Linked DNA regions of Homo sapiens. The protein of the gene in region 2 interacts with the protein of the main gene of each other region in a pairwise test. Each region holds a gene or a part of one and is shown on either strand. Other genes may lie near its edges.

Region 1 (9,853 bases), on a different chromosome or scaffold from region 2:
TTTCTGCATAGACGGTAGTGAAACTCAGATTTTTATAGTATGGTAGTCATAAAATTGTTAAAAAAAAAATGTATCCAGTCAACTTATAGCTGGCTTTTTAAAAAAATAACAAAAAACTTCTCCCCCCATTCAGTTAAGTAATTGCAGATAGGCAAAAAGAATAAAGCACACATCTCTCTTTTGTATGGAGAACAATTGTTAACACCAGCTGCCAGTTTTGTATTTTATTTTATTTGGTGTAAATCCTTACAAATCTGTGAGTGCATGTGTGTATGCATATATATGTATTTAAAAAATCTATAATGGATATTTTTCTGTATCAATACAGATGTACATATTTCCTTTTTAATTCTTATTATTCCATTATATATGATTTATTTTTTTTTTTTTGAGACGGAATCTCACTGTATTGCCCAGGCTGGAGTGCAGTGGCACGATCTTGGCTCACTGCAACCTTCACCTCCCGGGTTCAAGTGATACTCCTGCCTCAGCCTCCCGAGTAGCTGGAACTACAGACGTGTGCCACCACACCCTGCTAATTTTTTGTATTTTTAGTAGAGATGGGGTTTCACCATGTTGGACAGGCTGGTCTTGAACTCCTGACCTCAGGTGGTCTACCCTCCTCGGCCTCCCAAAGTGCTGGGATTACGGGCATGAGCCACCGTGCCTGGCCGAGTATACTATTTATTAAAGCAGTCTTTTTCTTTTCTTTTTTTTTTTTTGAGACGGAGTTTCACTCTTGTTGCCCAGGCTGGAGTGCAATGGCATGATCTCGGCTCACTGTACCCTCCTCCTCCCAGGTTCAAGAGAGTCTCCTGCCTCAGCCTCCTGAGTAGCTGGGATTACAGGCATGTGCCACCACGCCCGGCTAATTTGGTATTTTTAGTAGAGACAGGGTTTCTCCTTGTTGGTGAGGCTGGTCTCGAACTCCCAACCTCAGGTGATCCGCCTGCCTCAGCCTCCCAAAGTGCTGGGATTACAGGCATGAGCCACCACGCCCGGCCAAAGCAGTCTTTTTCTTAATACACCCTCCAGTTTTGCTGTACAACAGTGCTGGTAATGAATGCCCTTAAACAAATACATGTTTTTTCTGATTATTTCCATAGTATAAAATATGTACAGTTGCTATTTGGTACACTCATTATTTTGATTTATGTCTTTATTAGTAAAGATATAGGTCTTTTTTATGTTTATTGGTCATTTGCATTTCTTCCTTTGCATTATTGTCTTTAAAGTTTTAGTCATCTTTTTAATTAACTACTATTAATATATTAAGTAGTAGTATATTCTAAGTATATTTTAAGAGTAAATCAGTTTTATGGTCTGCTTAATTTTGAGAATAATTCCTCATTTTAAAAAAAATGAGACATGCCCTATAATTTAATGATTTGGTTTCCATTTAAGCTGTTAGTGGAAGAGATGAAGGTAATTATGAAAATATAATGTGGTATTACCTTAAAGGGGTAATTGCTTATTACCTTATAGCCTTAAAAATTAGATGACATAATTTTAAGTATATTATGTAGTTATTATCCAGACTGTAAGCCTTTCTCAAATATGTTTTTTAGAGGTAGGGTCGTGCTCTGTTGCCCAGGCTGGAGTATCGTAGCAGGGTCAATGCTTACAGCAGCCTTGAACTTCTGGGCTCAGGTGATCCTCCTGCCACAGCATCTCCTGAGTAGCTGGGACTGCAGCTGTGTGCCACCATGCCTGGCCCCTTAAATGTGTTTTAAGTAACATTTATTCACTTTAAAAATTACTGTTTAATTTTTTAAAGCCATAATTTATATCTTATATAATAAAGTTGAAACCTAGCTGTCAGGATTTATAAATCGTAAGTATATAGATATATTTAAGCAATATGATTTTATCTTTTCTAAAACTTTATCCTGAGCCAAGTGATGAGCTTCCTTTTGAAATGTTTATACCCATGACCAGAATTTTTGTCAGTTTTACTTTTAGCCTCCAGAACAGTTGTTAAAGATATGCCGTTTTCCAGTGATTGATAGCAAGGTAACATTCAGGCACCGAATCAGATTCTTACCTAAATAAGAAACATTGAATTTTAAATAGTATTTCTTCATTGGGTAGCAGGCAGTGTACTTATTTGTTGTTTGAATGAGGTAACAAATCCACAGTTATTTGGTTTTCATTCAAATACCAACAACAAAATGGCAGTTTTGTGAAGAATTTATAATTTTATTTACAATATAAAAACTAATGAACCTTCTGATTCTGACTTGTAGGGGATTAAGACTCACATTAATATTTCTTTAATAGCTAAATTAGGGCTTTTTAAAAGGTGTTGTTGAGGCCAAATAATTTTATTGGCATTTGGAAGATATTTCTCTTTTTTTCGTGTTTCCACAGATCGTTAACTGAAGACAATATGCAAAATTCTCACATGGATGAATACAGAAATTCTAGTAATGGCAGCACAGGCAACAGTTCAGAGGTAGTGGTAGAACATCCTACTGATTTCAGTACTGAGATTATGAACGTTACAGAAATGGAACAGTCACCTGATGACTCTCCCAATGTGAATGCATCTACAGAAGAAACTGAAATGGCAAGTGCTGTGGACCTTCCAGTGACGCTGACAGAAACAGAAGCAAATTTCCCTCCAGAATATGAAAAATTTTGGAAAACTGTAGAAAATAATCCTCAGGATTTTACAGGCTGGGTATATTTGCTTCAATATGTAGAACAGGAGGTTAGTAACTATTAAAATGGTATCAGAAGGGACAAATTAATCAAGTCATTAATTTATAATGAAACAGTAGACCTTATTGTTTATGATTAAAATTGACTCATAATTTTCAAATGAAGTTGAATAACATTAGGTAGCTACATTTTTAGCTTTGAAAATAGCTTACAGCTTTTGTATGTTGTAGAGAGTCAGTAGTGTCAAAGCTTAATGTTTTGTAATAATTGAGGTGTAAATGTGTGTGTAAAATTGCTGAAATAAAAAGTTGGCAAAATTAGTTCCTTCTGTTTCAATTGCGTTTAGAAGAAAAAGGGGGCTGCTGCCTGTGTAGGTTTTTTTTTTTTTTTTTTTTAAGTGAAAGCAAGTTTATTAAGAAAGTAAAGGAATAAAAGAAGGGCTGCTCCATCGGCAGAGCAGCCTGCATGTGGAGTTTTTAAGCCTGCCATTTATTATTATTTTTTTAGATAATAACGTTTGAAAGGAATAATAAATATTTTTTTGACAGAAATTTCCACAATATTTAAATACTGTTTTATTTTTATCAGAATCACTTGATGGCTGCCAGGAAGGCATTTGACAGATTTTTCATACACTATCCGTATTGCTATGGTTACTGGAAAAAGTATGCAGACCTTGAAAAGCGGCACGACAACATTAAACCATCAGATGAGGTGCGTACATCACTGAATAAACTTATCTCCAATAGGTACTGTAAGCCAATTAATAACAAAACAAAGATTTTTTTTTTTTTTTTTTTTTGGCTGGCAGTACCTACCATTTATGGTCAAACAATTTTTATAGGGTATTTATTTGCATTTGTCACTCTTGTGGCATTTGTAGCTAATATTTTCTCTCTTTGTTGGCAGGTGCGTTAAACCTCTACAGTTTGTCAAGCTTTGCAGTGCAAGCCTCTGTATTACACTGCAGCTTAACAAGTAGGGCAGGGCTTTTCTCTCACTTACATTTATTTCTCATTTTCCAAACAATATAGTTGGTTTGCTAGTCACATTTGCTACGTCTTATTGCATTTTTGGTCAGACGCTGTCATTGATGCTCTAATGGGTCTGTGCCCTATGGTCTGTAACCCAAAGCCTGCCCACACAACCCGGTCAGAATGCAGGGACTGCTGCGCTTTGAAGATCAAGACTCTGCACGTGGGGATCAGAACATTGCCATGTTCTATCCAACCTCCACCCAAATGGTAATGGTAGATTATTTAAACAAAATTCCAGTAATTAGTATTTCTAAGGTTCACCGGATAACACAGTGTTGCCTCTCTGTTAAGAAATAATTAAATATTTGAAGTACAGTTTGCTGTTTTCTTCTTAGGTTTATCGGCGGGGGCTTCAGGCAATACCTCTTAGTGTTGACCTTTGGATACATTATATAAACTTCTTAAAAGAAACATTGGACCCTGGTGATCCTGAGACAAACAATACAATAAGAGGGTATGTGGAACATTGATACTGAAATGTTTTTTATGATATAAATAATTATTCTGATGTTGATAATAGAGCTCATGAAAGCTAAGCTGGAAGTTTAACTTCTATTCCATTGTTAAAAAAATGATACATGTAATAAACTTAAGCTTTATGATTTGAAAATGCAGATAATAAAGCCCTCCTACAGTCCATGCCTCTTATGTCCCCAATTCCACTCCTCAAGGTTAATAGCTTGGTGTGTGTTCTTTCAGATATATGTATAAGTACATGTTTATGCGTATGCTTTCATACTGCTCTTTGACTTTTTTTTTTTAATAATGTTTGGGAATCTCTTCCTGCCATATTTTTTAACAATTACAAAAAGTATTTTATAATACTTTATAAAAAGTATCTTATAAGCCAAAGTACTCTATTTCACCAAATCCTTATTTATAGGAAATAATCAGTGCTACAGTGAACATCTCTGTACAAGTCAATATTTTTTGTAGAATGCACTAGAAATGGAACTTCTGTCAAAGGGAACACACAGCTCAGTTTTATCAAATGTTCCTTCAAAAATGGTATCGATTCTAAACTCCCACAGTGTATGAAAATAATCATTTTCCCACAGCTGTGCCACATTTTTTGTTTGTTTTACCTCCAGTGGCATCTCTTTTAATTTGTTTATGTCTTGATTGCTCATCCTGGTTTACCATGTTCTCATATGCTTATATAAGCCATTTTTTAAATTACCTGTTGATATTATTTGCTCATTTTTCTATTACATTATCTTTTTCTTGATTACAGTAGTTTGCTAATGTACTTGTTTTTGGTTTTCAAAAAAAAGCATGTGCATATTGCTTAAGAAGTTAGCTAATGTTAAACTGCTTGTAACAAAAAGTACCACCTCCACCTCCCTTCAAATATTTTAGCTCTTTCTTCTGGTATTTTCCACCATGTGTTTAACAGTAGATCTATGTTGCTTTCTTTCTTTCTCTGTTAGCTGTAGACATTATGTATCTGTTACGGTAAGTGAGAATTTTAACCCACTTACACTTTGTTTTCTCATTCCTTATCTTTCCAATATAGCTACAGAATAGGTTTCAATAATCAGCTTCAGTATTTTTTTTTAATCATTGTAAATCCATAAATAAGGATGGGCACAGTGGCTTATACCTGTAATCCCAGCACTTTGGGAGGCTGAAGTGGGAGGAGCGCTTGAGCCTGGGAGGTTGAGGCTGCAGTGAGCTGTGATTGCACCACTGCACTCTAGCCTGAGTGACAGAGTGAGACCTTGTCTCAAAAACAAAAAACATTAGCTGGGCATGGTGGCGCATGCCTGTAGTTCTAGCTACTCGGGAGGCTGAGGCAAGAGAATCGCTTGAACCTGGGAGGTGGAGGTTGCAGTGAGCCAAGATCGATCGTGCCACTGCACTCCAGCCTGGATGACAGAGCAAGACCCTGTCTCAAAAAAAAAAAAAAAAGAGAGAGAGATCAAAAACCTATAAATATTTTTCATCATACTGTCTTTTCATTTTATAACCTTTTTGGTTTTTAATTGCTCCTCCCCTGCCCCTCATTTTTCCCGTTTGTCTAATTTTCTTTGAACATTTAAGGTTTTTTCATACTCTCCAGCAGCTTTGTAGAAGGCTTTAAATATAGCTTTCTATACAATCAGATCTGTTAAAAAATGTGTAAGTCCCATTTTTTCCTCTCCTTTGAGCTGTCTCCTGGAAACCTTCCTACTATAATCTGGACTGGTCTTCTAGTTCTGCTGTACAAGAGTTGTCTTGGGATTTTCTTATCATCATGGTTCTAGGAGATGTCTTTACCTCACTTCTGGGTGAGTTTATTATTAGATCTCACTCTTTTCTTGATTTCATGTCCAACTTTTAGAAGAGTGTGTCCTATAACTTCTTGTTAAAGGATGCTTGGATGAAAAAATAATTTTAAGGTTTGGTAAGCTGTAGAATTTGGAGTTGAAAATTATTTTCTCCATAGAGCTTTGAAGGCATTATTTATTCCTTTATAGCTTCTGCTATTGCTTTTGAGAAGTCCAATACCATTCTTGCAGAATAGATTCTCTTTCTATAATGTGTTTTTCCTCTGTGGAAGCTGTTAGGATGTTCTCTTTGGGTCTGATGTAAATGAAGTTTTATAAAAATGAGCTTTGATGTGGATTTTCTTTTTCTTATTGTGATTATTGGGTGATTGGGTGAGTCTTTTCATTCTGAGATTCTAATGTCCTTCTATTCTTAGAAATGTTATTATTATGGATATTCTTATTTTGACAGTTTCCTTGCCTTGATTTTCTCTGTTGTTTTTAATAGTTGGATGTTGGACCTCTTCTTTTAATTACTGAGTTTTTCTTTTCTTCTTCCTATTTTTCATATCTTAGACTTTGTCTGGCTTTTTGAGGTATTTCCTTGACCCTTGTATTGGATTTTTAACATCTTCCATCAGATTATTATTATTTTTTTTTTTGAGACAGAGTCTCCCTCTCTCCCCCAGGGTGGAGTGCAGTGGCTCGATCTCGGCTCACTGCAAGCTCCACCTCCTGGGTTCACGCCATTCTTCTGCACCAGCCTCCTGAGTAGCTGGGACTACAGGCACCTGCCACCACGCCTGACTAATTTTTTGTATTTTTAGTAGAGACAGGGTTTCACCGTGTTAGCCAGGATGATCTGCATCTCCTGACCTCGTGATCCGCCCGTCTTGGCCTCCCAAAGTGCTGGGATTACAGGCGTGAGCCACCACGCCCGGCCCAGATTCTTAATATCCAAGAATCTTTCTTGTTCTCTGAGTGTTCCTTTTTTTATACTCTCCAATTCTTGTTTCATGGCTGCATATCTTTTTGTTATTTCTTTGATGATACTAAGGATAGTTGAGATTTTCCTCTGTTCCCAGGACGGTTTCCTCTCAAATTTTTCTGTTTACCCATTTTCATCTCTGAGATATGTGATCTCTGGATTTTTGTTCCTATTACAGATTAGATATTAACAAGCTATATGAGCCAGGCACAGTGGATCACTTGAGGTCAGGAGTTCGAGACCAGTCTGGCCAACATGGTGAAACCCTGTCTCTACTTAAAATACAAAAAAATTAGCTGGGCATGCTGGCAGGAGTCTGTAATCCCAGCTTCTCAGGAGGCTGAGGTAGGAGAATTGCTTGAACCTGGAAGGCAGAAGTTGCAGTTAGCTGAGATCGTGACATTGCACTCCAGCCTGGGTGACAGAGCGAGACCCTGTCTCAAAAACAAACAAACAAACAAACAAACAAACAAAACAAAACACAAGCATATGGAAGCACTGTGTGTTTTGTATGGGGCATTGTCAGTTGGCCTATGGTGTTTCACAGTAGTGTAATCATGTGGCCACTCTTTTTGCTGGTGGATTCCCAGTGATAGTAACCTTATATCTTATTCCTGAGCCAAGCAGTTTGTTTAGAAAAGGATAATTTTATTTACTTGGGGAATGGACACCTAGCTTCTGAAATCCCCATAGCTGGGCGGGAAAGTTGAAGATTTCTCACGATTCATTAAGTATACCTTCTTCTAAACGTTCTGTCTTCATTTCATTACCTTCTTGTCTTCTTCCCCTTTTCTCCATACTTTTTTCAGTGTCTGGTTAATTTTCTGAATCATTTGGGGTTCTGTAGGGACAGTAACATCTATTTTATTCTTTTGAAAACCTTACACCAAATATGCACATGCATGCATGCACAGACACACATGCTCTTCAATCTTTTATTTCTATATTAAACATATTTCCTCCAATGTTGGTATGTTTTTAACTTTGTTTATGGTGTCTTTTATCATATGGAGTTTTATTTTTCCTTAATGTGCTTCTGTTTTAATTCTTACTGGTTCCTGAGTTTTGTGCCTATTTTACCAAAAATATATAAATCCTGTATTTTGTTCTAACTTTTCTATAGTTTTTTGCTTATTCATTTATCTGAATTTAATTTCTATCTGTCGTGAGATAGACATTAGCCTTTTATATACTCCCACTGTTGAATTAAAGTATCTCCTATATCATACACCAAATACTCACACACATTGATCTCTTTTTTGTTTTCTTGGCTCTGTACTGTTCATCCATTTTTCTGTTACCTGGCCAGTGCCAAACGTGTAATTACTATAGCTTCCTAGTTTCTTATATTATCTTTCAGGAAAATGCCTGCTGCATTATCCTTTTACAAAGTCATTTTGCATTTTTGTATTCTAGATGAATAGTAGAATTTGATTTTTTCTTGTTCCACTAAACATTTTTTAGCGCTTTATTGAAATTGTGTTAAAATTGTGGTTTAACTTAGGGGAGTGTAGTTTTATACTTTTTAAAAATCTCTCTTGATTCTAAGATACTTATCTTGAAAGTATGTATCTAAAAGCTTTATCCCATTGGAGTATTAAATCCAGTGATTAAAATTGCTTACAGAAATCTCTTGACATGACTAGGTATTTTAAAATACTTTGTAACAAACTTTTTTTTTTTCTTTGGAGACAGAGTCTTGCTCTGTCATCCAGGCTGGAGTGCAGTGTTGAGTGGTGCAATTTCAGCTCACTGCCACTTTCGCCTCCCAGGTTCAAGTGATTCTCATGCCTCAGACTCCCGAGTAGCTCGGATTACAGATGTGCACCACAACGCCTGGCTAATTTTTGTATTTTTAGTAGAGATGGGGTTTCGCCGTGTTGGCAAGGCTGGTCTCAAACTCCTGGCCTCATGTGCTGGAATTACAGGTGTGAGCCATCGTGCCCAGCCTGTGATAAAACTTTAATGATAGAATTTTAGAATTGAGAGGGGCTTTTGAGAGGTTTAAAGTATATGTATACTTTTTTTTTTTTTTTGAGACAGAGTCGCGCTCTGTCGCCCAGTCTGGAGTGCAGTGGTGCAATCTTGGCTCATTGCAACCTCCGCCTGCCGGGTTCAAGCAATTCTCCTGCCTCAGCCTCCCAAGTAGCTGGGACTACAGGCATGTGCCACCATGCCTGGCTAATTTTTTGTATTTTTGTAGAGATGGGGTTTCACCATGTTGGCCATGTTGATCTTGAACTCCTGACCTAAGGTGATCCTCCCGCCTCAGCCTCCCTAAGTGCTGCGATTACAGGCATGAGCCTGTAATCACGCCTGTAACCATTTCACCATGCCTCATGAAAATATTCTTAAATTGAGATAAAATTTGCCTCTCTTTAACTTCCTACTTGTTTTAATTTTGTCTTCTGTCATAAATCAATCTATACAATAGACATTTCAGATTTAACAAATACTTACATGTCTACTCTTACCTATTTGCAATGTGTACATTTTGTATTTAATTTTCTATTTGATAAAGTTACATAAAAAGTACATTTATCTATTCTCTTTGTTTTCTCACTCTTTTTAAGCAGCTGTTGTATGCTTTCTGTTATTCTGTCTACCCTTTAATCCCTACTTGCATAGGAAGCAGTTGAATATAATTTTTGAAGTTAGCATTATCTTCTAAATTTAGAAATAATATTTTAAAAGTGATTTTATCTTGGAAAGATAACTTAAGAGTAATTTAATTTTTCAGAACTTTTGAGCATGCTGTTCTAGCTGCAGGAACAGATTTCCGTTCTGACAGACTGTGGGAAATGTATATAAACTGGGAAAATGAGCAGGGAAACCTGAGAGAAGTTACAGCTATATATGATCGTATTCTTGGTATTCCAACACAGCTGTATAGTCATCATTTTCAGAGGTAGGTG
Region 2 (7,615 bases):
CCGCCTCGCAGCCCCTTCCCACCCCCGAAGCGGGTCCCCAGGACCGGCCCTGCTCCTCTCACCGGCACCCGCGGCGCCCCGGCCTGCAGCACCCCAGGGTGGGCGCTTCCCGTGTCTGGGTGGGGAGGCGAGGAGGGCCCTAGAACCCCCCCCGCCCCCGCCCTGCACACCCCCCCGCCCCTCCCCAATCTCATCCCCCAGCGAGGGCCTGGGATGCTGCGGCAGGGTGGAGGGAAAGAGAAGTCGTCTCTTTCGGAGCCAGGTAACCATGGAAACCTCGAGAAGGCTGGAAACCCCCGGAGTTCAGGGACCCGCAGGCGGCCAGCGACCCCCTCACCCCTCAGCGCAGCGGCCCCCGGGGGGTCCGCACGATGGATGCGCGCGTGGGAAGCTACTTTCCCCGAGTTCATTAAATGAGCTCTGAACAAGCCTATCCGGAAGAAGTTCCTTGGTAAGTCCCAACACGAACAGCCAGGAAGCCTCTAGAAGGAGAAGCCGGGCGCGGGCCAGGCCTGCGGGAATGCAGGAGGAGGGGGTGCCGGGAAGGCCAGGCCGGGCCCAGGGATCCGGGGGCTGCGAACGCGCCGCACAGTGAGGGTCGGTCCATCCTGCGCAGCGGGCCTGGTGCCTCCAGTGGGGTCCGTGATGAAGGGCAAAAAAAAAAAAAAAAAAAAAAAGGAAAATACGTGAGAGAAGAGCCTTTCAAACCTGAATGTGGAAAAACTTTCCTAATGATAAACAGAAATCCAGGAACGATAAGGAAAAAGATGAACACGTGACAACATTAAAAAAGAAAATTTTACACGGGACAAAATCATTAGCAACATAAACAAATGATAAAGCAGGGAAAGAACGTGCAGTGTATATCGCGCAGTTACCGTCTATAACGTGAAAAGAGCCGAGGAGACAAAAGAAAAAGGCAGCCCCACGGGAAACACGGGCCCGGAATGCAAGGCTGTGCTCAAACTCGCTCCTAAAAAAAGAAATCCTGACTGGGCGCGGTGGCTCACACCTGGAATCCCAGCACTTTGGGAGGCCGAGGCAGGTGGATCATGAGGTCAGGAGATCGAGACCATCCTGGCTAACACGGTGAAACCCCGTCTCTACTAAAAATACAAAAAAATCAGCCGGGCGTGGTGGCGGGCGCCTGTAGTCCCAGCTACTCGGGAGGCTGAGGCAGGAGAATGGCGTGAACCCGGGAGGCGGAGCTTGCAGTGAGCCAAGATCGCGCCACTGCACTCCAGCCTGGGTGACAGAGTGAGACCCTGTCTCAACAAAAAAATAAATAAATAAATAAAATTAAAAAATAAAAATACAAAAAATAAAAAATAAAGAGATCCTAACTGCAGCTGCACCAAGACAGCACTGGGACAGAGAGGCCAGACCGGCGATGGGGACGCCCGGCGATGGGGACGCCCGGCGATGGGGACAGGGCACCAGGAAGCAGGTTGGGATTTGGGCAGGGGAGGCGGGTCCATCTTTGCTCAGGAGTCCCACGCCCAGGGGTCTTTTCCACAGAAGAACTGATGCCATCAGTCATAGCCACAGAGGTAACGGCTGGAAGTTTGCTGTGGAGTCAACACTGCAGAAAGGCCACATTCAGGTGGAGGCAGGGAACCGGCGGGCATGCCTCGGGGGTTGGGCAGCAGAGAGGGGGCAGACACCCCACCGTGTCCATGGACGCTCCAGCAACGCGTCCGTGCCCGGGTGCCAGGGTGGCTCGGGGTCTCTAGAGTGCTGCTCACATTTATGGGCGCTTTGCTCCCTAAGCATGAGCCAGTCATCACTAGGGGCTCAGACTCCTGAGATGGGGGTGCCACGGTCCCAGTGGGCTCTCTCAGAACGGGGTCGTGTTCCACGCTCACTCCCAGATGGAAATGGCCTGGAAATGAAAAGGCACCACAGAACCACCCAGTGGGGAGAGGGTGCCTGGGCTGGAAGAGCAGACCCACGCCCACTGCCACTGTTGAGGGAGGAGCACCTGGGACTTCCCTCCTCTAATTCAATCTGGGAAGCAAAGGCCAGGCTTGGTCTGAAGGTGTAAGGTTCCTGCTCCCAGTCTGTTGACGAGTGAACTCTGATTCTGACTGATTCGTTACTCCTGCGTATTGTGAATTAAGTTAAAAAATACTCGGGAACAAACATGGTAAACCTTCCCTTAAAGGACTTTATTTCTCTATTTTTATATGGATCATTTATTAAATTAGAAGACTAAAAAGTAAAAATATATTTTACAATCAAAGAAAAATCTGGACAATGGACCCCAGTAAAATAATCAGAAGCGCACGTTCTGAGACCACTCCTGCCTGGCACCCTGCAGGGTAGCGCCCAGGGAGCATCTGCAGAGGGGAGAGGAGAGGAGGGGGAGCCTCCGGCGACCTGTCTTCTATCTCCGGAGCCCCGCCTGAGGCTCCAAGATGGCACAGTCAGGCTGTCCTTAGTGACCGCTGCCACGGAGCTGGCGATCGGCCTGCATCTTCAAACCCAGGAGCAGGAGCAGCAGAGGCTGGCAAGGCCTGGGCCCTCAGACACCAGGGGCCTAAACCCAGCTCCCAAACCCACTGCAGCCTCCCCTTGTGAGCTGGCAGACAAGCCTGTCCTTCTGAGTGTGACGACCTCATCCACACCTGACACAGGCGGGGGCGGGGGAGGGTGGGGGTTGTGAACCAGCTAATTCTGGGGACCGCTCGGAGGGGCTCAGCAAGCTGCTTCTACAGTAAGCCACTTCTACAGTAAGCCTTCAAACAGGAAATAAAGCATAAAATGAAGGAAAGAAGAATCTTATTTAATTAAAGGCCTTGCAAAATGTGATTTGTCTATTAAAAAAATAAAGCGCTTGTGAAAAAGAAAACTAAGAGATGGCGGCAAGCGTGGTCATCGGCAAAGGGTTGCTCTCCCTCCAGCGAGGCTGGCCCCCACTGTGTGGGTCCCTCGGGCCCCCACACGGGCTGCTCAAGGGCTGGCAGCAGGGGCCACGTCCTCTCTAGGAGACACCCACAGAGCCACATGTGCACGCGTGTGGCAGTCTCACTGCACCCCAGCAACGCGAAGGCAGAAACCGGTGCTGGTGGCCACACCTGGGCGCCTGGACACCGAAGCCCCCAGCACAGTGAGGCCTCTGAGTGTGGCTTGTGGTCTGTCCTGGGTTAGAGTTGTTAATATCACGGAACATACCATCTAGAACGTTCCAGTCCCGCCTGACACCTTCATTCCCAATGGAGAAGAAATCTACACAGGCGTAAGACCAGGCCATCTGAGACAGGGAATCCCAGGGGCCCCTCCGTCTGAGTGGTCGGCGTCTGCTGAACAAATACCATGTCTTTCTTCTTCAAAGGATCAAAGGCCTTTAGGACCCACAGCTGAAGAAGGCGCCTGCTGCCAGCATGTCCCTCCCCCACGGCCACCACACACTTCAAGTTTACAAAAATAAATATTTATCAACAGTATATTTGACAAAAACCACCCCCAATCGATGGCAGAAAGCAGTATTTTCTAGCTGGCACTGAAACTTAACCTATTTTTTTGAGGGAGAAAAAGACTAAAATGTAAGCACTAACTTCCTCCTTCTGCATCTTCCACAGAAGACCCACTTGTGGGCATTCTCTTTCTGTCCGTTATCAGTGGGTTTACATCCGAAGGCCGGCGGCAAGACACTTGAACCACAAACACCAGACATGCAGGTGTCTCAATGGCATGCAGATTATTTAAAGTGCATCACTTGTGAGAAGCTTCTCAAATTTCTGACTGTCATAACCAGGTGTCACCTAAAATCTGTCCTGTAGGCCAAGATGCTACACGCAGCGCCCAGGCAGTCAGAGGTAAGTGAGCGCCTCCCGCCTCAGAAAGCTTTTACAGGGCCACGCTCGCCAGGCTTTCCTCGCCCACGCTGAACCCACGTCCTGGGCACAGCAGCTCCCAAGCTGTCAGCAGTCGGCTGGCAGTGCCACCACACCCTCTCGGAATCATGCACAGTGCTGCCTCTATCACCTCTCACCCCAGCCTCGCAAGGCCTGTTGAGAAGAGAAGCTCCCTGGGAGGACACCCACGGAGCTGGCACGAGCGCAGCAGGAGAGACGGACGGCAGCCTCCGGCGGGCGAAGGACCCGGCTTCAGATGCCCGCTGGCTGGCAATCAGGCAGAGCCTGGCCAACCGTGCCAGGCCCCCTTCCTCACTCCAGGTGTGGGTTCATTCTGCCTTCAGGCCGGAGTCTGTCACAAGGCTGGCTGGACAGTGGCCAGGTGAGCCAGGCCAGAGGCCGGCCCCACACCATCCACAGGAAGCTGCTCAGCTCACCAGACCCAAGCCCTGGGCAGGGGCCAGGCTCACAGCAAAGCGCGTTAGGGCAAGGGCGTGAGTTTTCGTCTGGGAAGTTCTAAAAAAAACCCACAGTGTGAGGGATTGTGTGTGCCTTAAATCAACAGCTCTATTCCAATTACATCACATCACAAAATGCCATGAATGGAATCGGAAGGCGCTCCACCACCTCCAACACCCTGGCAGAAGCAGCTGCTCTCTACAGCAAGAGCATTTTCCAGAACGGCATGAGAAGGAGAGACGCACGTCCCAGGGACAGGAGAGCGCGCTGAGACCTCCCAGCACGAGATGGGAGGGGAGCCCCCGCCCCGTCCTGGACCGCCAGGAACCGAAAACCCACATGCACCCAAGAACAGGTGTGGACGGGGCGGCACAGAAGTCCACGGGAGGGGGCGACACGGGTGCTCTTTCACGGGAATCTTGTTGGGACAGCATTCCTTGGGGAGCGCCGGGTCGGCGTGTCCAAAGAGCGGGGGCAAAACGGCATCGAGGCAGAGGCTCTATGGCTCCTCCCCCATCTGCAGCAGGGAGTTGATGGCGGCATCCTTGTTCCCTCGCTGGGCTTCCAGCACGGAGCGGATCACCTCCTGGTCCATGTTGGGGAACATGTCCTGGATGGCTTTCAGGTCCTCCTCGCTACAGCGGGGCTGGGCGTTCACGGCGGCCGGGGGCAGGGCCACGGGCACCATGCCGGGGCTACAGACAGCGGGCATCCCTGGAAGCAAAGATCAAGTTTGGTAAAAACGTCGGAAAGTTCCAGAAGTGCCACACTAGCTCCTGCTGAAGGAAGAAAACAACGCATCCCACCGGCCTCCCTGAGGAAGGGGCCACCTCGGGTCTCAGCAAACACCAGTCCCGCAAGACACCCTGGAAAGGCAAACCCCCAAACAGCAACCCCAGGCACAGCCACGGGGAAGGTGGGCAGGGCCCTCTGTGACGCCTCCTTCACTAACTCATCTTCCTTCCATATAAAAATCAAAGTTTGATCTTTCAAATCTCACCCGAGTCTGTTTTATAACTAGCAGGCTGGGGGTGGTGTTTTGATCCCTTCAGAACTCGTGAATTTGCACTGCACACGCTCGTCTTCACTGACCAGTGGGCTCACAGAGTCCTCTGCATCTGGGGACGGACTACACGGAATGTCACGCCCGCTGATCCAAACACTGCACGGTCTGAGCCTCTTCCTTTATCAGGCATTCTAGAAGATGCTTTTGCAGCTTGGCAAGTGTGTCACTAAACTGTGTGCCGGTGGGGAACAATCACCACAGGCACTGAAGACCTCAGCAAAGCTGCAGCCGATGCCCAGAATGACAACCCCACACACACATACAAACTACACCAAGAAAATGCTCACAAAACTCAAACAAGTGGGGCAGCAGGTGCGGTGTACAGTGGACCCTCAGTGCACTGGGGCCACCGTCCAGGGTTCCTGGCATCTCCACCCCACAGCTACGCAGGCCCCTCGCCCCATGTCTGATGCGGGAGGACACACTGAGATGCAATCTATCGAGCAGGAGACGCACGGCGGTTCAGCCACTGCAGCACACACACCCCTGAAGGCACCGTGTGGCCGGACTTAAGACTCGCCTCCCAGCCTGGTGGCCGCTCCCTAAAACCACGAGCAGCCCTGAGCACAGGCAGCGTGCGCGGGGCTCAGCGACCAGTGAGGCACAGAGCACAGGCAGCGTGCGCGGGGCTCGGCGACCAGCGAGGCACAGAGCTCCTCCTGCAGCAGCAGCTGCAGCAGTGCAAGGGTTCACTGCTCACCCGTTCATTCACCTTTAAAAGCACGAACCATCTCCCAGCTAGGATCACTGGAGCGCTAGAGCCCCAATCTTAGGATAGGACTTTTGTTCCTTTCTACACTTGGAGGATCCTAAAGGCAGCAGAAGCCACTTCAATCCTGGCCTGAACCAACACCAGCAACAAGACCTGCAGGGGTGTAAACGGAGCAGACAGGGCTTGCCACCAAGCCTCCTGCACCTGCTGCAAAGGCCAGGACTCCTCAGCAAGGAAGGCCACCGCTTCCCGGCTCCTTCTAGGCCAGGCCGACTCTTCCTCCACACCCACCCCTGCCTCCTCTGCTTCTCGGCTCTCTCAGGGCCAGGCCCACCTTTCCTCCACACCCACACCTGCCTCTTGTCCTGGCCACTGGACACCTCACCTCACTGGGGAAGCATCATCCCCATGCTCATCAGCCTTTCGGCAATGACGGAAAACGAACCGAACCATGGCCAGGTGGGGACGTGGCCACCCTCACCACCCTTTCTTCTTCCTCAAACAAGACAAAGGCTTGGGCGCTGTCTGTCCTGGAGGGACCCCTGGGATCCCCGTGGCTTTTTGGGCGCCCCGGCTGGCAGGCGGGCAGGAACTTGGCCATCACCTGTCCCTGCCCATACAGCTCCCCACAGCATGGCAACAAGAGGAATGGGGCTCGGCCATCGCCTGTCCCTGCCCACACGTCTCCCCACAGCGTGGCAACATGAGGAACGGAGGCACCGTGCTCCCACTCTCTCCAGCCTTTACCAGTCTGATGGGGAAGGGACAGGAGGAGGGGAACTGCTGCAAAATCGATGACGGTGGCTGTGACGCTGCGACGTCACGGCCTGGGGTGTCCCGAGAAACCTGCTCTGCTGACAATGAGGGGATGTGGCGCCGACTGGCCCTCAAGTGAATCCCAACAGCACGGCCCCAACACACTCACTTGGGGAGCAGGCACCCCCGGGGGAAGAGGTGGGTGCTTCCACGGTGTGGGCTGAGGGGCAGTGGCCTGGCTCACTCCCCTCCTTCCTGCAGGGCAGAGGCCATGTGCCTGGCCTGAGCCGGCCCATCCTGGTTACCAAGCACGGATGTGTCCATCAAGCCCTCCGGGAACGGTGAGCGTATGTGTCAAGGCTGCCTGGGGACTTCAGGAGGACAGACCAGGAGCTCTGGGGCCTGGCGGAGAGCAAAGTCCCCAAAATGTGGGCAGAGAGGACGCCATGGGAGCCCGGGGCAGCCCAGAGCCCACCTGTAGCGGCCCTGGGAGGAGTGATGGGCGGCTTTGCTGTGTCCCTGCCATCTGCCGCGCTCAGCCCCACCAGCCACCTGCACGCACGCGGACGGATGTGCAGCACAGGACAGGCCCCACCTCACGTTCTTCACGCCGTGTGAATCTGCTGTCATATCTTGGCAAAATCAAATTCTCTACTGACAAACACAAGGATACCCAGGAAAACCAAAACTTGTCCCTTTTCCATTCAGGAAAAATTGCTCCGAGAAGGCCCTGATCTCAGACCACGCAGCATGGTAAGTCCCGGC
Region 3 (3,815 bases), on a different chromosome or scaffold from region 2:
GTAAACGGAATGCGATTTCACACACTCCTGAAAGGGGAGCCGGCTTCCATCCCCCAGCCCAGCGAATGCGCCTCGTTACCATGTCCACTTGCAAACAGCTATAAGGACCCTTTTCCTCAGTTTTAAGTTTGATGTGTTGGTAGCTGGGAGATTTCAAGTTCAAGATTTTCCCTTGATCATGTACAAATGATTTAGATGCTGGCCGATCTCCGCCTCACCACTTATTTAAAGCTTATCTTTCACTGTACTTTTTCTGAAAAACTCCTCGCAGCAATTCCACCTCTTTTCCATAAGTAACAAGCTGCCAGAGGAAACATTTCAAAGTATTTCAGTAGTTTCAGTTCACTCCCCACCACCACCAATCACCCCAACATGGCTGAATCTGGCCACAACTCTTGGTTGACTTACATTAAAATATTAAAAAAGACCAGCTTCCCCCTCATGTGGGTAGCACTTTCGAGCTAAGCCCAGCTAAGAACAGAGAACACCTCTTAAAATAATTGTGAGTTTGGACAAACTTTACTGCAATAAAACAAATGCTTAATTTAATTCAGAATAAGAGATAACTCTTCAATAAAATATATCAAATTGTACAAGCACCCTTTCAAAGGGATAAAGGTATACCGGAGGGAGGGGACAGATGGACAGGAAGGTGAAATACCAGGGAACTTAATGGGCTGTTTGACAATCCCATTTTCACCAAGTCAAAACATGGCTTTACCTTCTGCCCCCCAACATGTAAAAAAGTATATAAAATTTTCTAATAAGTTTAGGACATACAACAGGTACACACACAGAGAAAGCATATTTTTTTTTCTTTCTGGATCTACTAATTGTTCAAGAATATTTAGCATATAGGTAATGGTTACAAGATACTCATTTTTTAAGCAGAAAATTACTAAACCCCCACCCAAATCACCTTTGCAATCTGTGAGGATGAATGTACCTAGTATTTCTCAGAAACCATCAATTCCTCTCAACAGGTTTTAACATTTTACTCTCCAATTATCTGAAATAAAGTTACCAACAGCCTTGAGAAGAATTAGGAAGTATTTCTAATTTTCTACCTCACCTCCAGGCAGTCTCAGGATTCTTCTCATCCCAGGTATTGGTCTTACAAAAATATTCTTAAAAAAGGAAAAACTTTAAAAATATGTGTGTGGTGGGGCGGTGGGGGGCGGGGGAGAGATAGGAACAACTGTAGTATATAAAGAGGTTTCTTTTAATGCAAGTAAAATGCAGAAATATGATGTGTCCCCTTCACTTTGAATAATCTCTCCATATCTAATATTTTCTGTGTGCATTGTGTCTGTTTCTTTGTTTTCCATAAGCAGAAGTCAATAATCCCGTAAAAATCATTGACTTTAGCACATTTTGCAAATAATTTGTCTCCCTCTTTAAGAAAATACAACAAATGGACTTACACAGTGTCTTTTGGGAAGGTGAGATATAGAAAAAAAGCACATATGTATATAAATTTTGCCTTTTAAAATAATTTGAATTTTTACGTCTGCTGTATAAAAATGTATTATATTTTATTATATATATATATTTATACATAAAAACCATCAGAGCCAATCTTTGTGAAAGGAAAAGGGGGCATCTGGAAGATTACACCAAGAAAACAGGGCTTGGTGCCTCCGCCTACAGAACAAATTTCAGCTATGTCGTGTGGCCCTGTCAGCCTAGCCGCTTAGGGTGGTGCACGCAGGGTTAGCAGAGCAGGAGTACTGGCTGGTACTGCCTTCGTGGAGAGGGAGAGGAAACCCTTTGAAACAAGCATCCATCATGGAGTCTATTGATCTGGTCTTCCTTAGGACAGGTGGTACATGCCATATCCCACTGGCGTGGCATAGAGTCCCACAGGCGGGATGGGAAGCACAGGTCTATGGAACGGGTAGGATGCTCCATATATGGACGCTGCCTGCAGGGGCGAGCTGATGGGGAAAGGGAGACTGAAGCTGGAGGGCAGCATAGGTTTTGCAGCCATTTTCAGCTTTTCCAGTTCTGCCTCCTGCAGTCTTTTCGCCTTGGCCCTTCGGTTCTGGAACCAGATTTTGACCTGGGTCTCTGTGAGGTTCAGAGAGCTGGAGAACTCTGCACGCTCTGCAATGGAGAGGTACTGTTTCTGACGGAACTTGCGCTCCAGGGCGAGGAGCTGGGATGTGGTAAAGGGCGTGCGCGGCTTCCGATTGGTCTTGTGTTTCCTCAGGGTGCAGGTGGTAGGGCTCATATGTCCTAGAGAACAGAGAGAGGAGCGGATTAGCAAAAGAAAGTTACATTAAAATAATACTAAAAAAAACCCATCTCCCCCGTCATCTCTCTAGGTTTTTTCCTTTCGGGCCTCCCCTCTCAACTGAAAGCACTTAGCTTTAAAAAAATCTATATATACATACATATACACACACACACACACACACACACACACATATCTATGTATGGAAAGACATACTTTGTTTCATCTTTGAAAAAGGTACCTTTGTCAAAACTATGTGTGTTTCTTGGGGGGAGGGGGACCATATATAAATGGGTAAGTTGCTTCGTTTTTTAAAAATGAGTTTTTTAAGAAAAGTTTTGGAAATGTAATGGTGTAACTGAACCTTCTATATGGAAAACAAACAGCATTAGAGATAACAGAAATAGAACATTTAATGTAAGACAAGGGAATCAAGTGGTCGGTGAGAAATGAACCGCTATCTCTTCTGAGCATAATTTATCTTCTCTTTAAAAATGGGAGACCAGGTTCATGATTAGCCCAGCCTCCCTTGGACATGGAGACAATCACATATGGGAAGGAAAATGAAAAAGGTTTTAGCAACCGGGTTAGCTGTTTCCCTTGGTCTCCTCTCTGAACCAGAAAAAGTGGATTGCGTCAGCATATTTATGAAGGATAATCGTGCAGATAAGGTCTGTGGTAAATTAATAGCATCTTTGAATTTGGGGGCAGTCCCACGCAATAAACAGTCACAAGCTGTCATTGCATCCAGTCCACAGATTATAAAATCTGAACATCATTTTACAGATCTGGATGTGGGATAAGGTTCTTGGCTGGGCGCTTCTGTAATATAAACTTTACTAAGACGAAGGGAAAAATTAGCTAGCCCATAAATGTAAATGTCAGGGGAAATCATGCTGCCTCCAAATTGAGAGCACGTGATGACATCTTAGTCATCCCCTCTACCCATTCTATGGCTTCGGGCAAATGTGTAAATGATTTGTTTGTCAGGGGGAAAAACAAGCAAAATAAAGGTATGCCAACAGCATCCAGACTCCACATTTAAAATGGATTCAATTACAGCAAATCACGGACTGGGACATCCTTGTGATTCCATAGCATCAACTAACTTTGGGCTTGTCTTCCTCAAGGGTGGGTGGGCGGAGGAGGATAGAGCTGTGGTGATAGAATACTTAACAATTAATTTTCTGCATTTGGCTTTTACGAGCTATGCTAATTTTCCAAATGTGGCCACAGTATTAACTCTAATGTATTCATGGGAGAATGTTGCATTTCTTGTTTAGTTACTTTGGTGGCCCAAGAAAGAGTTTACACTTCATACTTGAGGGTGACACAGCACAAGTCCCAACCCAGCTTCCATTTCCAACAAGAGATGGATTTGTTCCAGTGTCGCATTATTACCCATCACTTTACTGAATCAAAAAGAGATAAGAGGCTTTGTAACCAACCAAAGAACAGAAATCTGGGAAAGGGAAGGATAAGAAACTACCATAAAAGTCTATACTTTTGCATTTGCTAATCCCTAAGTTACTAGACAGCCGGGGAGCCAGCTTCTTAATTTACAAATTAACAACACTGT
Region 4 (8,360 bases), on a different chromosome or scaffold from region 2:
CACTTTATTTTTTAAAGGCCACAGTAGCTGGTATTTAGGAATAACCCTGTAGAGTGGAAGGAGAGTGGGACGAGGGAAGCCAATGAGGAGGCTCTGGCAGTGGCTCAGGGCAGAGATGATGGTGTGATGAGGTGACAGCAGAGAGAGTGAAGAAGTGTGATGGATTTGAGCTATGTTTTGGAGGCAAAGCTGACTGGACCTGGGGACAGAGGGGTTGAAGGAATTATCATTAAGAAAGAAATTTAGTTTGTGTTCTAAGCAGTTTGGTGGTAGTGTTATTTACTGAGATGAGAAAGGCTGGAGAAGAAGTGAGTGTCTAGGAGAAAATTAAGAGCTTAAGTTTTGACATGTTAAAAATTATTTGTACATGAATATTCATAGCAGTATATTTATAACAGCCAAAATTGGAAACAATGTAAAAACCTGTTAACTGATGAATAGATAAGCGAAGTGTGGTATATTCATACAATGGAATGCTATTTGACAATAAAGAATACTGATATGTGTGATGACATGGATGAATATTGAAAATATTGGGCTAAGAGAAAGAAATCATACACAAAAGGCCACATACTGTGTGATTCAATTTATGTGAGGTGTCCAGAATAGGAAAACCCACAGAGACAGAACTTAATTTTGTGTCCAGGTGGTGTACAACATTTGGGAAGAATCTTTAAAAGCTACCATCGGCCGGGCACGGTGGCTCACGCCTGTAATCCCAGCACTTTGGGAGGCTGAGGCGGGTGGATCACCTGAGGTCAGGAGTTTGCGACCAGCCTGGCCAACATGCTGAAACCCCGTATCTACTAAAAATACAAAAAATTGGCCAGTTGTGGTGGTGGGCGCCTGTAAATCCCAGCTACTTGGAAGGCTGAGGCAGGAGAACCACTTGAACCCGGGAGGCAGAGGTTGCAGTGAGGCGAAATCGTGCCACTGCACTCCAGCCTGGGCGACAGAGCGAGACTCCGTCTCAAAACAAACAAACAAACAAACAAACAAACAAACACTACCGTCACTTGCCCCATTCCTCTTGCCTTGTTTGTAATATTTCAGATAATGAAAGCACTGTCAGCTTAAGTCTTATGAATGAGAACTTAGTTTAGTTGTTGTAAATTGGGAGTGACTTTTAGTGGTTATGGAGTTTCTTTTTGGGGTAAAGAAAATGTTCTGAAATTGGTTAGTGGTGATGGACTCTATAAATACACTAAAACCCACTGTATACTTTTTGTACACTTTTGGGTGAATTTTATCATATGTGAATTACATCTCAGTAAAGGTGCTATTCCAAAGATGGTTTGATGTGGTATTCTGTTCTGAGTTTTCTAGAAAGCAGAGTTTCAGGTGAAGGGCTCATGTACTATTGCTTTCTTCAGGAGAAGGAGCGAAGGGTAAGGGAAGTGAAGCAGGGAAGGTGGAGTGCTCAAATGAAGATGCCTCATCCAGTTGACCATAGCTAAGCAATTATGTGCTGGATTCCATGACACTATTCCCCAAGAAGCTGCCTAACCCTCTTAGGACTGTCTCAGGCAAGTCTGTCCATGGAGAAAAGGGGAGAATATATCCACACTTCCATTTCTTTTTGGTCGAAGTTTTGCTCCACAGGGCATTAACTGCCCTACACTTCAGGTTTTGCAAGCATGGGCCCTAGATAGGCTCCCCAGTCTCTATCCTAGCTATTAAAGGTGAAGTCCCCAGGTGGGGGATGACAGATATCTGGTGAGGGGACTGATGTAAAGCTCCATCATGTTGTACCAGCTTGAGGTGAGTTGGAACCTACACCAAGATGATTCCTATAGGGGCAGCTGCATAAGAGGTGGGAGAGGCTGGGAGGCTATGAGTGGGGTCTGATCCTTGCCTGATAAAAGTTCTCAAATTTCCAAGTGAATATGTCATGTAGGCTCCTTATTGCTTATTTTTTTCCTTGTAAATACTATGTGTCAATTCATTTTCTCTTTTCTTTAAAGAAAATACATGCATTCAAATAAATCAAATAAAATCTGGTGTTAGAACTAATCTCTCCCCCCACCAAATCAATTGGCATTGAGGGATTTTCTTTGTAAAACTAATATTTATGGCAACTTTTCCCTCAATTAGAGTACATAGTGATTAGGGGGAAATGGAGAAAAGAAAACAAAGAAAAGGAATTAAAGCTACATGCTAATCTACAACCAAAGGCTGACTAATATTACATGAATTGCACAAACAACTTATAAAACCTCTATATTTAAAATTGTTCAGGATTAGAATTATCAGGACCATTTTACATTATGATATGTAAAGTTCTAAAAAACTTTTTATGTCTGCCCTCATCTAATCTTTTGAAATATGTGTTAAAATCTGTTAAAATTATTTTAGCCCATGTAAGGAATAGAAATTCAGTGGAAGTCATTAATGTTGTTCGGTGACATTGTAGGCTTTCGCCCTCCAGGCACATAGTAGCATTGCTCTTCGTGACCTGTGAAGTTAGATGTGGCTGTGGAACTTACTTTAGGAAATGAGGAGAGTGTGGAAATGGTGTATAACACTTGAGGAGAGCCTTTAAAAGCTACCATGGCTTGCCCCATTCATTTTCCCCTGTTTGTCATATTTCAGATAATCAAAGCACTGTCAGCTTGAGTCTTTTGAGTGAAAATGATGTGTATCCAAGACAGTCACCAATGTGAGAGGAATTCATAGTGTGAGCAGGCAATACATTTCTGAACATGGAAATTTTGGATGTCTGTCTGTTATAGCAGCAAAAACTAGCCTTTGTTTTTTTGTTTTCTAGTTTTTAGCAGCAAAAGCTAGATCGATGTGTTCTTCAAAAAATAATGCAATGAATTATAGATTTGAGGCATGTAGAAGCTATATCCCTTTAAAGCCTTAATGACATATCAAAAGCAGGATAGTAAAGTAGTTAAGAGCATGGCTTGGAGGTAGATGGCATGGGTTTGGAGATTGATTCTGCTGACTATTAACCATGTGACCTTCAGTAATTCTCTTAAACCCTCTGGACTCGGTTTTCTTATAAAGAATCATAATACCCACATCATAAGATCATTATAAAAATTAAATGAATTAACACTTGTCAAATGCTTGGAATAGTGCATAGTAAGCCTTCTTACTATATATAGAGGTAAAATATATAATTAAGTAGTATGTGCAAATTCTTTAGAACAGAGTCTAGCACAGAGTAAGTCCTTAATGATATTTTTTGTTATTATCAATCTTAAAAATCATTGAATAGCAATCGAGTACTTGGCTGATAATTTTCTCTGGGTATGTCTAGTAAGAGATAGGAAAGTGAAAACAAGCTAAGGAGAAAATATAAGTTTTTCTTTTGATTATGGGTAACAAAACCAGCAGTCACATAGGTGGGTTTTACCTCTGAGGAGACACTTGAACACATTGCTGTTACCTTCCCTTTCTAATCAGGTGTGTCCTGAGACAAGAAGCAGAGAGCATCAAGAAATGGAAGAGGACAAACTAAAGCTTTTTCTTTAATTACCTCTATCATCCAGAGTTAAGGGAAATAAGTCACCAGCGACTGAAACCAAACACTCCTGCCAATGAGAGATAAGCATCTCTGGGCAATTTCACACAGCCCAGCAAAAGCTTTTTTGAATTCTCATGACAAACCAGCCCTGGAATTTATCAGGATGATTTATTCATCAGAATTACCTGAGATACCCATTACAAATAGAGATTTCCAGAATCTCAGGTGGTGGTGGGAGAGGAGAGCTCCTGGAATTCTGAATTTCAAGCGAATTCTTTAGAAGATTCTTCTACCTGCTTACATTTGAGAACCCTAAATCCAGTCCTGTGGTTTATACGGAGTAACTGAAATACCACTGCCACCTGGTGGCAGCATGTACAAATTACAGGTTCCAATGTCATTGTGTGATAGAATCAGTAGTGAAATTTTTCAAGTCACGCGTAATTCTTAGTCACCCCTGCCCTCTCCTAATCACAAACGTATTTTTGAGTTTTCTGGATTATCTGATACAGAGTTTATATAATTTAAACCCTGAGGACACAACCTCTTACCATTTTAATTCATTCTTTTTGTTAAACTGAATTTGAAATTATAACTTATTTTTCTTTAACTTTCTCTATATACTCTTATGACATTTAATTAATTTGTAGAATAAAAGAAATCATATCCACTTATAGAACATTCTTTAGGCAGCTCTCTGTCAGAGAAACTGAGAGAGATAGAATCTTAAAGAGAGAGGGATGTCTGAGAGGAATGATTAGTTTTGCATATTGGACTCTGTGATTGTCTGTTAAGATGGAAATAAAAAAAGGAATTGGTATTCAGGAAGTTTTTTCTTCTACTTTCAGAGAATTCTGACTTTGATTCACATATAAAAAGATGATGTCGTAAACCTTTGAATTGGAATAGACTTAGCTTTGCTGAGCTCAGATCCTTCCTGGTTTACGTTCTTCATGAGAATTGGTTATGTAAGGCAAAATAAGAGCAGAAGGAAGTGTTGCATCCTTAAATATAACTGGTATTTCATAATGGATCATGGCATTCAGGCTTGTTTTATAGGAGTCAGTAAGAAGCAAGTGTGGTATAACATGACTCTGAAATTGAGCATCATCCCACTCAGCGCCAGTGTGGCAACTCCAGAAAGACAGTTTGGCAATGTTCAAGATGATTTACAAGCAAACATGGTATGTTCTCCATGAAAAAATAAAATATGTATTAACAAACAGAATGCTCATAAATGAAATTGATGAAAATTACTTGCAGGTTATTCACAGCCAACTTATTATTTGGCACCATTGCAGCCTCTGTAAAAACACCTGGTTGGATAGATTTGTGTAGCAGTGCTTTTTAAAATAAAAAATACATTTTGAGTTAAAATTTGTATAACACAAACCAAGGCATTTTAAAGGTAACAATTCAGTGATATTTAGTACATTCCAAATGTTTTGCAACATTGTCTAGTTCCAAATGATTTTCTTCACTCCAAAAGGAAACTCTGTACCCATTAACTAGTTGGTATACAATTGTTTTAAAAGGGCACATGGGTGAATTTCAAGAGGTTATAGAATTTCAGTTTGATGTTTCAAAATAATGTTCAAAAGACCTCAATATATGGCTTTGTCTTGGCTTGAAGTGTTTGCATTCTTGCCAAAGCTTTTTTAGTTTAGCTATGTCAGTTGGGAAGAGTTTATAATCAGAGGATTTAAAGAGTCTCACATGATGCAATCAAGAACAGTAGTTAAACTATGGGACTCTGATGAAAAGAATTCGATTGCGTGTCAAGCATGGTCACTGGCTTTAAAATAGTACAGAGAAAAGCCAACAAAAATGTGGGCAATGAGTCTGTGCATTCCTTATAAGCATTTTATTAGAAAAGAATGAGATTACCTATGCAAATTAGTGGGAAGATGTTTAGACAGATGTGTTGTGCCCACCAGCTTGAGGTATAAAAAGCCCTGTACGGGAAGAGACCTTCATTAACACTTGGGTAACTTACCCTTCACAATCCATCTAAATCCTTCTCAATTGCTGCCACCATGACTCGTTACTTCTGCTGTGGAAGCTACTTCCCAGGATACCCTATCTATGGGACCAACTTCCATGGGACCTTCAGAGCCACCCCCTTGAACTGTGTTGTGCCTCTGGGCTCTCCCCTGAACTATGGCTGTGGATGCAATGGCTACAGCTCCCTGGGCTACAGCTTTGGTGGTAGCAACATCAACAACCTGGGCGGCTGCTATGGTGGTAGCTTCTATAGGCCATGGGGCTCTGGCTCTGGCTTTGGCTACAGCACCTACTGATGGACCAATGGCTCCAGTGACTACAGGACTCTCAATTAATTCTCTGCACAGAACAACCTGAAGAGCAATGACTGTCTTCCTACCTTCCCATGTGCTTGGGTGATACATCTTCCATCTTCTTGCTGACTTCTTGCTGTGGTCTTTGTCTTTGATGCTGTTGGACAAGTCACCCAGGACTCAGGTGCTGAACTGATACTCATCTACAGACAAAGGAAGCAAGATGCATTTTTTTGGTCATACTTGAATTTTAACAGTGAAAAAGTAGTTTGCCTCCCATGGTTGCTCTGCTCATGTATTATTAGCTTCTACATCAACATTAATGTATTACAAATTGGGTGTGGGTAGTAAGGGGATTTTCTGTCAGTCTCTTAATAAATCTATTTCCTTCAGCATAAATATTTTTGTCCTGGTTATTTATTTCACTTCTCTTTTATGCTCTTGAATTCATCAATCAGTTTAAACCCGTAATGGTTGACTTTAACCAAATTTTATTCTGATTTCAGACTATATAGCCAGGATAGGGTGATGCCTAACCATTTTTTATTTTTATATTGATATTTCAATTTAAAAAACTCCCTGGAAATGTCCCGTATTTAACCCAGATATACTGCAATTGTTGGCGTTTCTCAAAGCTGATTATAAAACAGGAATATTTCTTAGCTGTTGAATGCTAAAACATGTTTTCTTTTCTCTTTTCCTTAGTGACAAGATTCCATTTTGGTTCATTTCTCCTTTCCTACTGTTTATAGAACTCAGCTCTGGGGAGATTTGAACCCCTCATGTTGTTGGAAGAATTGGAACTAAATAGACTTAGTTATGAAACTCTATCTTTAAGAGTTCCTAAGATTTGATCAATAAAGGGAAGCCAACTACTAAAATCACATATTATTTTTTATCCTTTTTTGATAGATGGGTTTATTTTCTCCACTTTCTTCACCTCTGATTATACATATAACTAGTACTAAAAATGAAGTGTTTATTCTTTGAAATAATAGTTGCCATCAAAAGCACTTGAAATGGTATGTTGTCTACACTTAGAAAATGCTCCCTGTCGATCTAGAACTAGAAATAACATTTGACCCAGCCATCCCATTACTGGGTATATACCCAAAGGTCTATAAATCATGCTGCTATAAAGACACATGCACACGTATGTTTATTGCGGCACTATTCACAATAGCAAAGACTTGGAACCAACCCAAATGTCCAACAATGATAGACTGGATTAAGAAAATGTGGCACATATACACCATGGAATACTATGCAGCCATAAAAAATGATGAGTTCATGTCCTTTGTAGGGACATGGATGAAATTAGAAATCATCATTCTCAGTAAACTATCGCAAGAACAAAAAACCAAACACCGCATATTCTCACTCATAGGTGGGAATTGAACAACGAGATCACATGGACACAGGAAGGGGAATATCACACTCTGGGGACTGTTGTGGGGTGGGAGGTAGGGGGAGGGATAGCATTGGGAGATATACCTAATGCTAGATGACGAGTTAGTGGGTGCAGCGCACCAGCATGGCACATGTATACATATCTAACTAACCTGCACAATGTGCACATGTACCCTAAAACTTAAAGTATAATAATAAAAGAAAAAAAAAAGAAAATGCTCCCTGTCTTGCTTACTGAAAAATCTCTGCTTTATTGAAGCAAAACACTTTATGTTTGAATTAAAACTCATTCATTCACATATCATGTATTTATTGCACCTCTGCCTGAGAGAAGGTGCTTGATTAATTGTTCATTGACTTTACTTGTTAAATCTCTGCTTTATGGGTGCAAAATATTGTATTGTCCAATGTAAAGTTCATTCATGCATGCATCAGGTATTATTGGGCTGTGGCCACTGTGTTAAGATATTTACAGTTGTAAAAACAACTAAGCAGAGGTGTTTTTGATATGAGAAGCTGACTGTCTTCGAGATTTATTCATTCAAGAGGTACTCATCACATAGTATAGCACAGCATTGTCTTAAGATTTGGGGACACAAATCTTAGAGATAACTGAAACACAATTTATGCCCTTAAGAATTAAATACACTTTATTCAATATTTAAAGGGCTTTTAATAGTCTCCTATTTCATGTCAATCAATGTGCTGTAAATGACTATCCAAAGACAGATAGATATTCCTTACTCATTTGCTTCCTAGGACCTAAAATTGGAGACAGTCTGTGATAAGAACCATGTATACACACAAAGTGTTACAGGCTTGCATAGAAGGGAAGCTTCGGTACGTAAACATGACCATGAGAGGGAGTAAGAGTTACATATCAAGTTAGATATGGCTGTGCAAATGGGAAAAAGAATAAGGCTATTTAAGGATGAAATAGGTTATCACTGGCAAGGCTCCAATGCATAGGTAGGATGACCTGTTGGTGGAGAGATTCCAAGGGTGTTGAGTACTGGATAGGTGATTTGAGATCTCTACCAACCATAAGACTTTAGATTCTATCTTTATGACTAACATTTATTTTCTACTTTAAGGCCATAATTGTTTTGTATTTTGTTAATTAGTTTTTATTTAAAAAAATTTCAAACTTATGAAAAATTTGCTGTAATAGTGCAAAA

What was found.
Region 1: the proteins of TOLLIP (region 2) and PRPF39 interact in binary tests that used the Homo sapiens proteins (3 or more experiments, as listed by UniProt).
Region 3: the proteins of TOLLIP (region 2) and MSX2 interact in binary tests that used the Homo sapiens proteins (3 or more experiments, as listed by UniProt).
Region 4: the proteins of TOLLIP (region 2) and KRTAP7-1 interact in binary tests that used the Homo sapiens proteins (3 or more experiments, as listed by UniProt).

What each region holds. Positions count from the first base shown.
Region 1 is NC_000014.9:45,092,851-45,102,703, forward strand, and holds part of PRPF39 (pre-mRNA-processing factor 39), read left to right. Parts: intron 1-2,370; 5' UTR 2,371-2,389; coding exon 2,390-2,713; intron 2,714-3,252; coding exon 3,253-3,378; intron 3,379-4,036; coding exon 4,037-4,155; intron 4,156-9,678; coding exon 9,679-9,846; intron 9,847-9,853. UniProt on the Homo sapiens protein: Involved in pre-mRNA splicing.
Region 2 is NC_000011.10:1,272,224-1,279,838, forward strand, and holds the end of TOLLIP (toll-interacting protein), read right to left. Parts: intron 5,031-7,615; coding exon 4,816-5,030; 3' UTR 2,148-4,815; downstream 1-2,147. UniProt on the Homo sapiens protein: Component of the signaling pathway of IL-1 and Toll-like receptors. Inhibits cell activation by microbial products. Recruits IRAK1 to the IL-1 receptor complex. Inhibits IRAK1 phosphorylation and kinase activity.
Region 3 is NC_000005.10:174,727,582-174,731,396, reverse strand, and holds the end of MSX2 (homeobox protein MSX-2), read right to left. Parts: intron 2,239-3,815; coding exon 1,814-2,238; 3' UTR 501-1,813; downstream 1-500. UniProt on the Homo sapiens protein: Acts as a transcriptional regulator in bone development. Represses the ALPL promoter activity and antagonizes the stimulatory effect of DLX5 on ALPL expression during osteoblast differentiation. Probable morphogenetic role.
Region 4 is NC_000021.9:30,826,850-30,835,209, reverse strand, and holds KRTAP7-1 (keratin-associated protein 7-1), read left to right. Parts: upstream 1-5,450; 5' UTR 5,451-5,511; coding exon 5,512-5,775; 3' UTR 5,776-6,171; downstream 6,172-8,360. UniProt on the Homo sapiens protein: In the hair cortex, hair keratin intermediate filaments are embedded in an interfilamentous matrix, consisting of hair keratin-associated proteins (KRTAP), which are essential for the formation of a rigid and resistant hair shaft through their extensive disulfide bond cross-linking with abundant cysteine residues of hair keratins.